Regions from separate parts of the Homo sapiens genome. Here region 2 is linked to region 1. Evidence: fine-mapped expression QTL. Tissue or cell type: testis. Region 1 holds a variant in brackets; the other region holds the start of a gene. All regions are shown on one strand. Distances are from middle to middle.

Evidence for each region. PIP is the estimated chance that this variant, and not a neighbour inherited with it, causes the effect.
Region 2: POLR1D starts here. The variant in region 1 is fine-mapped to the expression of POLR1D in testis (GTEx, PIP 0.97).

Annotation. Positions count from the first base shown.
Region 1 is chr13:27,554,050-27,562,154 of GRCh38, reverse strand. LNX2 (ligand of numb-protein X 2) reads left to right here. Exons shown (of 10, transcript NM_153371.4): 6 at 2,170-2,313; 7 at 5,742-5,919. Among named protein-coding and RNA genes, the nearest start is that of LNX2, 62 kb to the left of the region's middle. The variant T/C (reference allele first, on the strand shown) is at 4,916.
Region 2 is chr13:27,617,544-27,625,648 of GRCh38, reverse strand. It overlaps POLR1D (RNA polymerase I and III subunit D), which reads right to left and starts at 3,757. Exons shown (of 2, transcript NM_015972.4): 1 at 3,640-3,757; 2 at 2,200-2,774. The coding sequence starts at 3,665. The coding sequence ends at 2,399. LNX2 (ligand of numb-protein X 2) reads left to right here and starts at 5,120. Exons shown (of 10, transcript NM_153371.4): 1 at 5,120-5,274. RefSeq lists silencers at 3,501-4,060, 4,681-5,570 and an enhancer at 4,364-5,092.

The sequences.
Region 1 (8,105 bases):
ATTTGGGTCCTGGGTTCTACTATTAAGCCAGATGTAGCAGATGATATGTCCACCTTTTAGAAGTGAGGAAAGGGAGGCTCAAAAGAGCTGTGATTACCAAGGATCTGACTTACCTGGTCTCTTAACTCCCTGTCAGGATCTATATAAATAGAGGAAGAATAACTCTTATCTCTATAGTGCTTTGTTGTTGTTTCTAAGGAATTCACAGTGTTTAAAATACATGATAAAATTTGTCCTCATAGCATCTTTGTGACATAAGTAAGGATAGTCATTATTAGAGAAAGAACATGTTTTTCATAAAAGCATGAAGATGGATAAGTTGGAAAGTCATCCAGAGGAGATCTATACATTCTGCAACATGCCATAGCATTTAATGATATGAGCAACTTCTACAGTGATAAGGGTGCAACAAAAAGATGTTTTTCTTAAAGTTAGCAAAACAAAACACTGTAAAGGAAACCAAGAATTATGTAATTGAGGATCAGGAAGTAGGGTAGGCCGATAGTCATTGAAGAATGTGTTTACAACACAGAATCAAATAACAATGAAAATTTAAGACTATAAGAAAATTCAAGTCTCAACTCTCTTTATTGTATTGAGAGGAGATTCTGATATTGGTCTAATTTCATAGACTTGAGGTTTAAAGAAATTGGATGCCTTAAAATTTCCTCAAATCAAAGGCAACATTAGGACCTATATCTGTGGGTATTAGCCAGCAGCTGCACCACTAAAACCCAGCTCATCTTGTAAGAGTGGAGATTAGTGGGAGGGAGGGGAGAAAAGAGGAGGAGGAAGAAGAAAGCTAATAGAGTTATAGCATCTGTTTGAGTAAAAGAGTCAAGTGAGAGGCCAGATCAATAAGATAGAAAATAATAGATGGACTATATGTATTTCAGGCAATGTTTAAATTATCTAATCTAGTTCATTCAATTGGATGATTCTAACTAAATTTCTAACCAAAATGTGAAAAATACAGATACACAGATAGAAAATGTATTTTAAATTGTCCGTGATCATATTTTATATTTGGATGTTATAAATAGTTTCAACGTATTTTGTGCTATAATTTTCTCCAAATAATGGAAAACTAAAGTTGCTCTGTTTCTTTTTGAAAATAAGTAAAAGCGTTATTGTTTTTGGATTTTAAAAAATAACATATACTCCATGTCTTAAAAGGAGACCAATAGTAAATGATTTTAGTAAGGCATTAAACTTGTTTCTTACTTCTTTTCTAATGTAAGATTTGAAAATAAAGTGATTTCTTAACATTATTGACTATAATCATGGGAGAGGTCTCCACTTTGTACCACAATTTCTTTAAAGCAGGCTATCATATTTTCCCATAGGAATTACAGTAAAATTGGGCATTGTGGTCATGACCAAGAGTCAGCATCAAATAAATTAGACTTATAATTTAAAAGGAAGTATTAAATAACTTGTAAAAATGTAACCAATGTAAACATATGTTCAAAATATGATAGCTAACAAGCCTCTAAATTTAAAACGACAGTCATGAACCTCTAAAATAATTTAACACTGGAGACGTGTGTCACATTCACACAAGTATGCTATATATATATATATATATACACACATACATATAAAGTCTTGTTATGCAGGATTTCTGTAGTCATTCTTTTCAAGAATGTTGAAGCCGATATCCTACTTTTGACTCAGACCTATAGCAGCAGAAACAAAGCTGTGCAGAATTTCATTATGATTTCTGAAGTAGCCACCATGGAAATTTATTTCAAAAGTCACAATGGACTTTAATCAAGTTTTGAAGCAGTTCTTCCTTTTATTTCCTTTGCTCTGTCTTGCAATATTAAGGCCAACCTTGAAGATGCAAAGAAGTATTACAAGAAAAGTTACCAATCATGGGGCAATAAGAGCCCAGGCAGTGTGACCACTTTGCCTTGGTCATTTTGGAGGTGGGGTTGCAGACGGCATGCCCAAGATTTTTGTGTGTATGTGCTTCAACTGCTGAAGTTTTAAGATATTAGCTAATGAAATGAACTCATTCCTCTTGCCACCAGGTGCTTGCAGTCACTGTCCAGATGACGCCCTGGTACAGTGATTAAGAAGTTCATTGAAAATTACACTGTGTGTAATCTTTAAAATGACAAACATCATTAGTCACTTATGGTAATGTATTTGTGTTTTCTCCAGGCCAGTGGAGAGAGAGTGAATTTAACAATTGCTAGACCAGGGAAACCCCAGCCTGGTAACACCATTAGAGAAGCAGGAAATCATAGCAGCAGCAGCCAGCACCACACACCACCACCGTATTATAGCAGACCAAGCTCACATAAGGTGAGGATTTTTTTTTTTTTTTATGCCACCATCAAAGGATCATTGTTACAAGCTGGTAAGATTTAAATGAAGGTTTTTTTGTGTGTCAGTCACACCTCAATAAAGCAGTTTTTTTAAAAAAAAGATTCAAATGAGGGTTGTTATTCTGTTGAAAAATATAGGTGTTTGGAATATGAAATGTATATGTTTTGCTACCTTGGAAAGTGACTGCTTTGTTCCTTAGATCTGGAGATAGTTTCTTGGAGGGGAAGTTTCCTTTGCCAGGCGATTAACAAGAAGCGTGAAATCTTCTATCTGTTTAATCCTACTTGAAAGTGGAATTTATCTTGGGTTGCTTATTTAAATATAAGAGTTAGTTGATGAAAAAACATAAGACAAGATTGACAAATCTATGCTTAATAATTGAGCCTGTTGCCTACAGAACCTGAATTAGATACATGAAGATTAAACATATGAATCATGAATTTTGATAGGTACATATATAGCATATTTACGTATTTGATAGGTACATATATAGCATATTTCTTTTTATGTTAAAGCTTAGAGGAATATTACCCTAAATCATTTAAAATTTCCATATGTTAAGCTTTGTTACTGTTTCTTCAGAATCAGTATTTCACTGGTTTTATAATGTATTCTACCTGAGCTGAGAATTTTGATGCTACCTCACTTTCAGTCCAAAAATCTGAAAGGATGATACTTTAGCATTCTTGATATTATTTACTTCATTTCATCCTTCATTTGAACTCTTAACTTCCAGTGGGCCAGAAGTTTTAAAACAATGATGTTATGCTTACCCAATTATGCAAAAATAAAAGCTAAATGTGACCTACCAGAGTAATTCTCCTTAAGTAAAATTAAATTGCTTTACTAAGCAAAAACTTATTTATTGTCACCTGAAAGTAACATTTGAGTGAATAATTAGCTTTGGAGTCTGTCTCTGGTACCCTAAGAAAGCATAGCTTAAAGACACAGTATTTTTGGCCCATTGGGTTTATATGGTTTTCTGAGCTTAAGTTCTCTACAGACTTGTCATTGGTCTTTGATTTAGTTAATACTAAAAAGAAATTATAATCACAGACTTCATTCTCATTTCTGAGCAAAACCAAAATGTATGAAGGAAACCTATAATTTGCCTTTAAATAATGACTGTGGAAAAGGGGTAATTGTTTTAAACAGGACTTTTTGAATAGGTGTTGTTTCATATAGCTAGTCCTTGCTTTACAAGTTTTTTATACATATAAAACTATAATATAAGGTACAAGTTGATAATTGAATCTTTTATGTTATTGAATTTTATAATTTGAGATAGGGGTGTATATAACAACATTATAGTTTTAAGAGAGTTTGAAAAACTGTAATTAATAATTCCAGTATTCCTATAGCAAACTCTCCTTAATTCAATTTGTTGTGGGCACATGTATTTTTCTGTCATAACTATGCTAATTCTCATTCTCTTTAATTTTATATGACAATGTTCTAAATAGTGATGCTGAATTTATTCTATTCCAGGCACTCTGCAAACCTGGCTGGTTAGAAAAACCACTTGAAATGGAATGTGTTCATTTAGCTATTTACTACTAAGATGCTCCATTTGTTTTGTCAAATCCTGATACAGAAAAGTAAAGGTCTCCTAGGGAAAACACATACACATTCACCAAAACAATCTTTTCAGACAATTATAATCATTCTGAAAAAATTAAAGTATATATTAGTCTTCTATAAAGCTTCCCAGTAGCTGTTCTGATAAACATTCATGTTTGTTTTAGGAAGTTCCTTGAAGCAAACTGAGTATAATCTTTGAAGTTTGGTTGGGTTCCTGGGTAAAAATTGCATACATTTTAGACACCTAGAGTAATAAAATACCCACACTTTGCTTAAATATGTAAGGGCTGAACCTGCTTAAATGAATATACTCAAGGTTGAGTTTACCTGAGTTGTCTTCAGAATAAAGTTGTGTTTGTCTAATTTTGAAGGCTGCTGACAAAAATTTCATACCTTTAGATAGGAGATTGCCTTAAAACATTTACAGATTTTCTCCTTGGTCATAACATTTTCTGGGAATACTATGCTGCTATTACACATAGCTCCTTTGGTAAAATTTCAAGAGTATAGATTTCACATCTGGAGAAGGGTAGATAGGCCTAGAATTCCAGGCCCTGATTTAGAGATTTGATAAATGCCATTATTAACAGTTAAATACATGTCAATTCTCTAATGTGATTTAAGGAAATGTTATAATTCTGTGAATGTAATTTGTATTTTTTATATTATTAACAATTTTAATTATCTACAACATTCTCTTAACAGTTAATAAGTGTTAAAACCTTCTGAGACATTATCTTACACTGTACACTTAATGGGATAGTTCTTGTGTAGGTGCATATATACAATATGTACATGTAGTCTATCACACTATATAAACATATACAAAATACTATTTGTATTAATATATAGTACATTCTTTTAACATACGTAAATTTTGAATCCCAGGACAGTTGCCTATATTAACATGATTCAGGACAAGTTACATGACCTCCCTAAGTTTGTTTCATCATCTGTAAAATGGGGTCAATAATAATATATAATTTCAGGACTTTTG[T/C]GAAGGTTAAATGAAATAATGCATGTAAAGGCATTAGCTTTTCACAGGCTAAGCCCAAATGTTAATTATTATTTTAATATTAATATTGCATATGTACATCTTATTTTTTACTGAATTCTAATTCAAAAGAAAAGTGATGTTTTAAATTCTTTTTCTTCCAGGAACATCTCAATAATAAGTAGTAGTAACAAATGTCAGTAAAAATAGGAGATATTAATTTGTTGGGAATTTATTTCCCTGTCATTAACTTTTTCAAAAATTCAGTCATTTTATATCCTTTTAGCTTTTCATGAAGATTTTGAAGGTAGATTTGCATCTTCTTCATGATTGAGCACTCATAGTAGTAGTCAGTGAGAATCAGGAGATAGGTCGATGACCTTTTTCTGGCAGTTGCCAAAATCTACACTTTTGTACTACTCTGTCAACTTTTCTGTCAAAGAAATGGGGGAAAGATGGAAGTAAAATTAATTGATTTGTCTTCAGAATCTTAAAACTCAAAAGCATCATTTACTTTTGTGAAGTTGATCAAACATGAAGCTCAAACAAATTATACAAATGATGTGCTTATTTTACTTTGACTGCTGTATTTCAGCAGTCCTGAGTTTTTTCAGCTACATAAACAGTCATGAAAATAACATAGTCCAAAATTTGACATTGATCCACAGCAGACTTATTAAGAACTGTGTATTACTTTCATTTGCAATTAAGGAATAAAAAATAATTACTTTATAAATGCCATGTAAGTTATTACCTTAGTTTGAAGTAATAACTTTACTTCAACTATATTTTATTCATTATCCAATGATTTTTTTCTTGTATGTTTTAGGATCTTACTCAGTGTGTTACATGCCAAGAAAAACACATTACTGTAAAGAAGGAACCACATGAATCCCTTGGCATGACCGTTGCTGGGGGCAGGGGAAGTAAGAGTGGTGAGCTGCCCATCTTTGTGACCAGTGTGCCACCCCATGGCTGCCTTGCACGAGATGGCAGAATAAAGAGAGGTAAGATGGGATCTTGAAAAATTTTACCACATCTTATTTCTGAATTAAATGCACATTTAAAAAAATAAAGAATATCTACAAAGTATCTATTAAACATGACTTTTTTAAGTTCTTTAAACTGTCCCTTGCATATGGAAGCATAAAGTCATTCTATGAGGTTAGAAAAATGCCTTATATAAAGGAAAGTTGCTGAACCTTGATGACAGTTCCAGAATTTGCTAACAGTTACTCAGACTCTTAGATTATTTTATCTTGGGAAAAGATCCTCTAGCATTACAACAGACTTAGATACTCCAAAGGGCCATCTCACTGAAAAATGTTTCTTTTAATAAAGTGTCTGTGTAGAAGGGGACTCAGAGAGGAGGTGGAGCAGAAGACAAAATTAATTTTAGGGATAAATGCATTTGCCATTTCATATTCCCTATCAATGCTATATAATTTGCATAGATGGGGGTTGCAGCTAGCCACTATTGCCATGGTAAAAATAGCAGTCTCCATTGACTTAGTTTGTATATAAGGTAAGAAAAGTGACTCTGAAAACCTATTTTTCCAGGAATGAAGTTGAACCCCTACCTCACACCATAAACACAAATTAAATCATAATGGATGCAAGATCTAAATATAAGAGCTGAAATTCTTAGAAGAAAACACAAATGTAAATCCTCATGACCTTGGATTAGGCAGTAGTTTCTTAGATATGACACTAAAAGCAAAAGCAACAGAAGAAAATATAGACAGACTGGACTTTAAAACTGCAAACTTTTGTGCTACAAAGAATACAACCAAGCAAATGAAAAAATAACCCACAGAATGGGAAAAACATTTGCAAATTATATATATGACAAATGACTTGTGTCTAGAATATATATTCTTACAACTCTAATTAAAAAGACAGAAAACACAACATAAAGATGAGGAAAGAATCTGAATAGACATTTCTCTAAAGAAGATAAATAAATGGCCAGTTTTCCCATGAAAAGATGCTCAGGCTGGGTGTGGTGGCTCACGCCTGTAATCTCACCACTTTGGGAGGCCAAGGCAGGTGGATCGCTTGAGCCCAGGAGTTTGAGAACAGTCTGGGCAATATGGCACAACCTTGTCTCTACAAAAAATACAAAAATTAGCTAGCTGTGGTGGTGTGAATCTGTAGTAATCCCAGTTAGGAGCTGAGGTGGGAGGATCACCTGAGCTCCAGAGGTCAAGGCTACAGTGAGCTGAGATCATGCCACTGTACTCCAGCCTAGCATCAGAGTGAGATCCTGTCTCAAACACAAATCAAAACCACAGTAAGATACTACTTCACAACCAGTAGGATGACAATAATGAAAAAGACAGCCAATAACAAACACTGGCAAGGATGTGGAGCAGTGGAAACCCTCATTAATTGCTGGTGGGAATATAAAGTGGTACAACTGTTTTTGGAAAACGGTTTGGTAGTTCCTCAAAGAGTTAAACTGATTCCTCATATAGTTTCCATATGACCAGCAATTCCACTTCTAGAGAAATGAAAACAGCTGTTCATACGAAAACTTGTATACCAGTGTTCATAGCAGCATTATTCACAATAGCCAGAAAGTGGAAACCACTCAAATGTCCATCAGCTGAGGAATGGATCAATGGAATGTGGTCTACCCATACAGCAAAATATGATTTGGCCATGAAAAGGACTGAAGTACTGGCACAAATTACAAGGATGAACCCTGAAAATATTATGCAAGTAAAAGAAGCTAGATATAAAAGACCATGTATGATTCCATTTACATGAAATGTTCAGAAGAGGCAAATCTGTAGAGACAGAAAGTAGATTAGTAGTTGCTTAGGGTTGGGGAAGGGAAATGATGGGTATAGAGGGAGTGATTAAAATGTTCTCAAAATTACTGTAGTGATGATTGCACAACTGTGAATATATTAAAACCATAAAATTATGTTCTTTAAATGGGTGAATTGAATAGTATGTGAATTATTTCTCAAGCTGCTATTAAGTAAAGGTTATTTGTCCAGTTGTAGTATTGGGGTAATTTTATTTCCTTTTTGTTCTTTTATTGTGTTTTCTAAATTTTCTACAATGAGAATGATTTGCTTTAATAATCTGAAAAACTGATGATAAATTGGGAGAGATAAATTTCTGTAGACTTTGTAGCACAAATGTCTGCTTCCTACAAAACTAATCCTTTCCTAACCTTTGA
Region 2 (8,105 bases), 63 kb before region 1:
GTCATCTTTATGGCAAGGACTCATAAAATTTGTCTCCAGCTTAGATCTCTTCCACGATCTCCAACTCACATAGCCACTGCTTACAATGTTCACAAATGAAACTTTTGACTCCTATCATCTTTTCCACCTCCCAATCTATTTTCCATTTTAAGCTTCCCAATTTCAGTAATTGGCCCCAAAGCTAGGCAGTAGTCATCTTTGATTCTTCATCTTCCACAGTTCCTGAAGTGTACCAATTCTGTGCCAATTCAATTCTAAAATATACCTCAAACCTACCTTCTCTTCTCCATCACTAGCTTCTACCCTTCCAGGCCACTTCAACTCTTTATAGTGTCTCTCTCTGCTTCTACTCCAGCCTCCCTATAATTCATCTCCCCCCACTCTGTAATCAAAGTAAAGAAGACGTCATTCCCACTGAACCTAAAATCCAAAATCCCTACTACCCCAACTCTTCCTCCCATGGACTCCAGAGGACAGGCCCTTCTCCTTGTCTACTGTGCTACAAAAACATGCAAATCTTTGTTCAATATCTTCAGTTCCTCATGCCACCAGTTTTCTGCTTTAGGACCTTTGCACATGCTATACCCCCAGAATGCATTTTCTCTCCTCTTTGCACAGCCAGCTCTCTCCCTTCCTGTAATCTCTAGAACACCTTTCCTAACTTCCGTGCCTAAAGTAGATTCCTTTCTTATGTTTTCTATCTTGACCCTACATTTGCTGCTTTTACAGAATTACAAGTTTTTAATTTTATATATTTTTTTGAGACAAGGTCTCCCTCTGTCACCCAGGCTGGAGTGCAATGGTGTGATCATGGCTCATTGCAGCCTCAACCTCCTAGGTTCAAGATATCCTCTCGCCTCAGCTTCCCAAGCAGCTGGGACTACAGGCATGTGTCACCATGCCTGGCTACCTTTTTTATTTTTTTGTAGAGACAGGGACTCCCCATGTTGCCCAGGCTTGTCTCAAACTCCTGGGCTCAAGTGATCCTCCCACCTTGGCTTCCCAGGTGTGAGCCACCATGCCGAGCCTCACAATTTTTTTTTAAGGGGCTCTTATAACACATGCTTTATGAGAACAGGACTTACTCTGTCTCATCCACTATAGCTATATATCTATCCCCAAGGCCTGGAACATACTAGTGCTCAAAAATATGGATATCTCTTTAAAGAATTTGGCTGAGTGTAGGAAATGTAGGCTCTATGGCACGCTAGTGTAAGAGGTCAGGTTTGAGTGACTGAAAAGCTGCATGCCATAACTACTTACATGAATTCATAGAGTATTTACTAAGTGTCCACTACCTGTCAGGTGTTCCAGGTACCAGAATCATGTTGACCTCCAAGTTGGTTTAGTGGGTAAACAAGATAAGCACTACCAATAGCATAGTAAATGCCAAGGCCAGGAAACACAGGGTGTAATGAAAGCACAAAGAAGTACCCAAACTAGGCTGAGAGGCCTGACACATAAGCTTTGACTTAAGAGTACGGCAGGAGTAAGACTGGCCCAGGAAGAGGGGATAGATAAACAAGGGCCCAAAGCACAGAGCACTGGCGGGTGGGATATGTGTTTTCCAAAACAGTCATTTCCCCTATATGGAATTTTCCTTCTCCTTGGCTTTACCTTCTCTCAAATAGGGCTTCTTCTACATTACCCTAGGCTATACCTACTTAAGGACTGAAAATGTTTTCTAGTCATCCCAATTTTCTCCTTCTGTAATATAATCAAAACATCTTACCTTACTTAGATCATGACTAAGTATATCCCAAAATTCAAGCAGTAAACTGGTATCTTTCCTGTAAATGCCTCAAAGATGGAGCCTTACTCCCTAAAACTCTCATGTAAAACCAGAATTCTCACACTTCTTCCAAATTATTCCCACCCTTGCCAAGTCTACCAATCACAGCAAATGATGCAATTCTTTAAAAGCCAAAAAGTTTAGCAAGAAGCCAAGTCCCCACCCCAATCTTCTTTCCTTCTGTTTTTAAACAACAATCTAACTGGGGTCATGGTTTTTGTCTCTTCCCTTACCCCCACCACTCCAACTACAGACATGGATATATACTTCTTTTAATTCCCATGATCACAGTTCTTGTCTAGGCCTCTGATATTCTCAGTTTCCTCATTTTCAATGCTGGCTTAATTAGAAAAAAAGTCATCCTCAAGGACCATTTGGTTGCATGGAACAGAAACCAGTCAAACTAGTTTAAATAAAAGAGGGAATTTATTAGAAGAATACAGAGGTTCTTGCAGAGATTCCAACAGCTGCAAGGGGTCAACAGCTAGAATCACGCCTTTCTGAAGGACAGAGTATGCTGTAACCACAAACTTCTAATTCTGGGTTCTGCACCATCAGGAAGAGAATATCCTACAGGACAGTTCTCCTTGTATACTGCATAAAGGACTAGAATGTGGATTCATTTCTGCTTGCTTTTTGATCCTTATAGTCCTTTATGCTGGCCTCAAACTTGTCAAGCACATGTTGGCAGACATTCATGAGCTCATTCAGGCCTCTCTGAAATGGCTCAACAGCTGGAAGGGTACCTCGAGTCTGAATGCGTAAATTAATTTTGCTCTCTGAAGGATGGGTCGTAGTGTAACCACAAAATTCCACTTCCGGGTTCTTCATGATCATGTAACGTAGAGAATTTCCTAGGGTATGGTCTTCCTCGTGCAATACAAATGTCACACAGTGTCTATCTGTTCCAGCTGCCTGGACCATTTCCAGGGCTGTCTTCCTCTCGCCTTCAGCCATTGAGGTCTTCAATCCAGATATTTTTCTACACACATATTTTTTATAAAAATGAGATCATACTGAATATTGTTTTGTAACTAGCTTTTTCTCATTTACTATATCACATTGCAACACATTATTATTAATCTACTCCAGCTACACAGAATTATTCGCCTCTCATTTTCCTGCCTCCACAAACTCTATCAATAAATATTTAATTTATTGCCTCCAGTTTTTCCCTGCTCCATTTGACCATCCACACTGGCCACAAGGGGAGTTTTCTTAGAAAAACACAAACTTAAGTGTTTGCAAAAATATTTTTTGGTAGAGTCACAAGCAAGGGATAGGATTAGAATAGGACTGGTCCTGCTAGAGGATGAAGAGAGGGTTGAAAGGCATAGAAATCCCGATTGCTCTAGTATAAAAATAGAGGATACAGATGATCAATGTGCAGGCCCAACTACGGCTTCCATTTTGCAAGAGAAGGAAACTAGGAGAATGGAAGGTTCAGGAGTCAAGCAGCAGGGAGAAAAAGAGCTCAGCGCACAGAGTGGCTTTAGGAGCAGTCTGCACATAGAAAGAAGGTGAGCCGTAGTTACAGGGACAGAGGCACGAGTACCGTCCTCAGGAGCAGAGGCCCGGGGCGTGATTTTTACACACTGCTGTTGTAACGGGGGTGGGCAGTTCGGATACTTAACTCTGGTCTCCCAACTTGTCTTCCCTCCTTGATAGCTAGTGTACCTCTCAGCCTCTCAACTGAAACACATTCATGTCTCCTCCCCACTTCTCTCTCCATGCTTCTTCTCTGCGCCCCGAGTCAGGCCCCGGCTGCCAGGCCAGGCAGCGTGCCCCTCGGCCACCCGCTCCCCTTGGGCGCGGCCCGCTCCGCCCGCCTCCTCCTCGGCCGTTACCTCTCCAGCTCCTGATCCTCTTCCATCGCTGGGGCGGTTTCTGGATCCTCAGGTGGTGCTGGCGGATCGGGGGCTCTGTCCCATAGCGCGAGGCGCGGAGGCGAAGCAGGAAGCAAGGACCGACCGACGGAAGGCGCGGAGGACGGAAGGAGGGAGGAGGAGCCGCAGCGGCGCGGCAGGGCCCAGCCGCGGGGCGGGGCATGAGGCTCCACCCCCAGCCCCCGCCCCGACGCGGGGTGAGCGGTGGCTCGCGGCCCCGCGGCTCACCTGGGCGACCACGCGAGGCCACTCGCGGCGGGAGGGGCAGGGGGCGGGGCCAGCGCCGCCTTACCCCGAGGCCCAGACAGGCCTGCGGGCGCCCCGGCTCAACTCTGGTACCTTTCCCCAGGTGATGGCGAAGGGGCGCGGCCTTACCTGCCGCCCCCAAATCACTTCCCTTCCCAGTGGCAAGTCCGAAAGCGGCCCGACTTCCCAACTGGGGCGGTGTTGACCCAGGATGGCCCTTCCTGGGACCCCGGCCCTCCCGGGCCTTTTGTGGGACGACAGGCTTAAACTGTAGTCGGTCAACACACCTTGAAGAGGGAGGGGGGTCACGTGCGAGATGAGTCACCACAGAATACGAAGGTTGAAGGCGGTATTTGTTTCACCGGGGAGCTTGCAGTTGCATTTTCAACTGGGTCAAAATAGGGCAAGAAAGAAATGTCTCTTTTGGGGGAGTGAGAGTTTGGGAGAAAACTGTTTCCCACCTTATCCTTTCCGTCCTAGGATTCCTTCTACCCCCAGAGCGCGTCCTCTCCGGCTGTAGACTTCCTTTTCCCTTTCTCCCCAGTGGCTCCTCAAACCTCCTCACCTGCGGAACCCGCCCTCACCTTTGTTCCCAGGCGCCCAGCCCCCGCCTCGGCAACCTTTCGCCGCCCAGGCTCGCTCTCCATCCAGCTCCCTGCGTCCCGGCCTTCGCTGTGCTCCCTCAGGTGCGCTTCCTCTCGAATCGGCCCTTCTTGTCCCCTCGCCGCTGGCCCCGACCCTGCCCGACTCCAGCTGTCCAGCGCAACTACGTTTCTGCTTCCCTGCGCCACCTGTTCTCCTGGCCTCCCCCCACCCCGCCCCGCGATTCCTCTGGATGTTCACTCCTTCCCCAGCTGTGCCACTCTTGGCGGCGGCCGGGGGTGCGCGCAGACACCTAGCCAGCGGGGCTTCCGCAGGGGAATCAGGCGGGCGGCGGGGACAGCCCGGGGCGAGTGGGGGAGGCGGGCGGCGAGGGCGGAGTGGTCTCACTCTAACCCGGGAGTGACGGGTCCCTTCTGGCCCGCCTCCCGAGCTCTCGGATAGGTGGAGCCGCCCTCTGGTCCGCCCACCTCCCGCCCTGTGCTACCTCCGATTGGCCCGGGTGCGGGTTGGGCCGCTCGGCCTTGGCGCTGCCCCCGGGAAGGCAGCAGGGGCGGTTGAGAAGTGAAGTCTTGGCCGGAGTTTGCTTTTTGCCAGGAAATCCGCGGCGGCGGCGGCGGCGGCGGCGATTCCTGGCGGAGCGGAGCCGGGCAGGCTCTCCGCTCCCTCAGCGGGCCGCGGAGAGCGGGAGCTGGTGCCGAGCAGCGGCGCCAGGAGCCCGTGCGCGGCCCGGGCAGCCGCGCTTTCCCAGTGAGTAACTTTGCCCTGCCCGCCTCGCTGCGCGCCCTCTCGCTGGCTGCGGGCAGCCGCCTCAGGTGCGGGCGTCAGCTGGGTGTGGGTCAGCGCCGCGCCCCGGGAGGCGGCCGGAGCGGCGCCACAGCTCGCCCCGGAGCCTTGGTCCTTCGCGGCTGTCTTCGCTCGCCCGGGCTGCGGGGCTGGCGTGGACTCGGGTGTGGGTCTGGTCCAGGAGGGAGAGTCGGCGCCCGGTGCCCGCCGCCTGCAGGCGCCCGGGAGGCGGGCGGCCTCCGGCTGTTAGCGTTTGCTGGTTCCGGCCACCGTGGTGCAGAGCTTGGCGTCGTTTGCTTCTTAAGGGAAGGGAGAGGTGGGGTGAGTGTTTAAATTTCCTCTGTGTGTGTGTGGTGTCGGCAATGAGAGTGGCACTAGCTGCCTTTATCGGGTTTTGTTCTCTGGAAAGGGATGGGGAGAGATCATTCCCTCCGCCCCAGCCTGTTGCCTGTGAATTCTCACCTTTCTCTTTAGGCTGGAGAGGGTGGGAGAGAGATTTGACATCTTCCAGGGGGTAATTTAAAAATATGAATCTTGATTTGGAAGCAGTTGCACACAAAGCATCATTCAGGAAATACATCACTCGCTTTTCAAAGCTGTATGCCACGTTTTAAACAAGGACTTTTGACTCATGTAGTGTTTCTTTTAGTATTTCAGTTTACGTTAAGTTTATGAATCCAGACGTTCGTTTGTACCAGGAGCTAAAGTACACTTATGCATGGGCTTTGCTGTGTATATTATGCTTTTTAAAATCACAGAAATCAGAAACAAAGTTGAGTGAAAAGCGGTGGCGGTGCAGGAGGAGGAACACTTGTGAGCTCCAGCTTATTGGAACTGCCTTTAAGAATTTCACATTCTTGCGGCAATAGTACTTACTTGTAAATTGGCCTTCTTCCCAGGACAGGTTTTGATATTTCTTTTGCATGTACTTCGATGCAGCACTAATGAAGTTGGATCTCAGTAGATCAATTTTATTTACTTTGCTAGATTTGATTCCCACCCCCACACCTCTTTAGAAAATGGACTTTGGCAGGTAAAGAAGGAAGCGGGAATCTGGTATCCTTTTTGGCTTGTCAAAGCTTTGTTGAGCCATGAATAACAAAGTTTTGGCTTTTTAGCTTGTCCGAGTCCCACATGTGAGTTTTCCCATGGGGTAAAAGTAGGCCAAATGAGAACCAAAGTAGAATAACATCACTTTTAATTCGGCCCACTTGTGTGTTACATTCTCCATATATCTTGTTTCTCTCATCAACTTTGAAATTTTTTCATTATTTATTCATTTAGCCACTGATAAAGTACCTACTGCATGCCAGCCATTGATGGCGGGGGTTGCTTCTTGCCCAGTTTTCTCATTTGGAAACTGATCCATGCCTTTATCCCACTAGTTACCCTGAAGTAATTTGAACTTAGGGAGCATTTCTGCCTGGAGACCTGTAAGAATAGGTGTTACGTAGGCACTTAGTCTTCAGATTGGTTTGGGATTTCGTACATTGTAGGCACGTAGCACGCAGGCCACTTAAAAATAAATGTATGTGTCTTTGGGCTGTTGTATTACGAGCTTTGCATATGGGCTTGTCTGGCCGAAGGACCCAGTGTCCGAGGTGGAGGTAGTAGTCAGGGACATGTATTATTCATTTCAGAACACTTGGCACCTTTTCTTGCTTACATTGGGCACTAAAATATTTACTGAATTGACTTGAACAGAAAAATGAAGGATTTTTTATACCAGATTAAGAAATTTGGACTTTATCCAGTCAGTGATACTGAGCTGCTAATTTTAAGCAGGAGAATGTCATGATAACGGGTAAGCATTCCAGAAAGATATCTGCAGCGTCTGGAGGATGGTGGGCTTCCAGATGGGCGATATGGAGACTAAGTTGGAGGCTGTTCTAATGGAGGGGTTAAGTGCTCAGGGATTCTCTATTCAGATTACCTGGGGTGGAATCAGGCTCTGTCATACACTGAAACCTCTTTGTTCCTTAGGTTTGTCATCTCAGAGTTTGGGGGATAGAACTTGAAAAAACATGTCTATTACTTAGAATAGTGATTGCCAGATAGTAAGGACTTAGTAAATGCTAGTGTGCTGGCAGTGGAAGGAGAAATGACGTGGTGTTTAAGAGGTATGACTAGGAGGCTGGACTAGGTAAGTGACTGGGTAGGCTTAAGGAGGGAAGGATGAATCCTGGGTTGTTTGACTTCAGGCATTGATTGACATGTACTGGGTAAGCTGGCTGTGAAATTAAAACGGGTCAAATTCTAATTCTATTACTTACCCTTAGAATAACTATCCTGACAGAACTTTGATTTCCTAACATTTGGGAAATGATTGTCGTACCTGTTGAGTAGGGTTTGAGGAATTATGCATGTAATGCCTTTGGCAGGGTACCTAGCACATTCCAAGTGCTCAGTAAATATTAGTTGTTCCTTTAGATGATGACATTAATGAGCTAGTGGAATGTTGGAGGATATGAGAAGGAGCAGTTAAAAACAATTGATGGTAGAGGTGTAGAAGGGAAGATAAGTTCAGTTTTGGACTAATCTAAGGAGGTGCTAAATGGATGGTTGAGAGATCCATGATGCAGTTGTTGGATAGTTGTGTCTCACAGGAGCTAGGAAAGAATAGAAAAGAAAAAGAGTTCACAGAAAGGCTTTATGAGTATGGTAAGCTTTATGAGAGATTTAGAGGAAGGGGAGGGTGAAGGGGTTCACAGTGGAGCGATATCAGAAGTGTTGACATTGAATATTAGGCATTTCTATCCTTAAAATATATTTTGGCCACCATCAAAGAAAGGAGG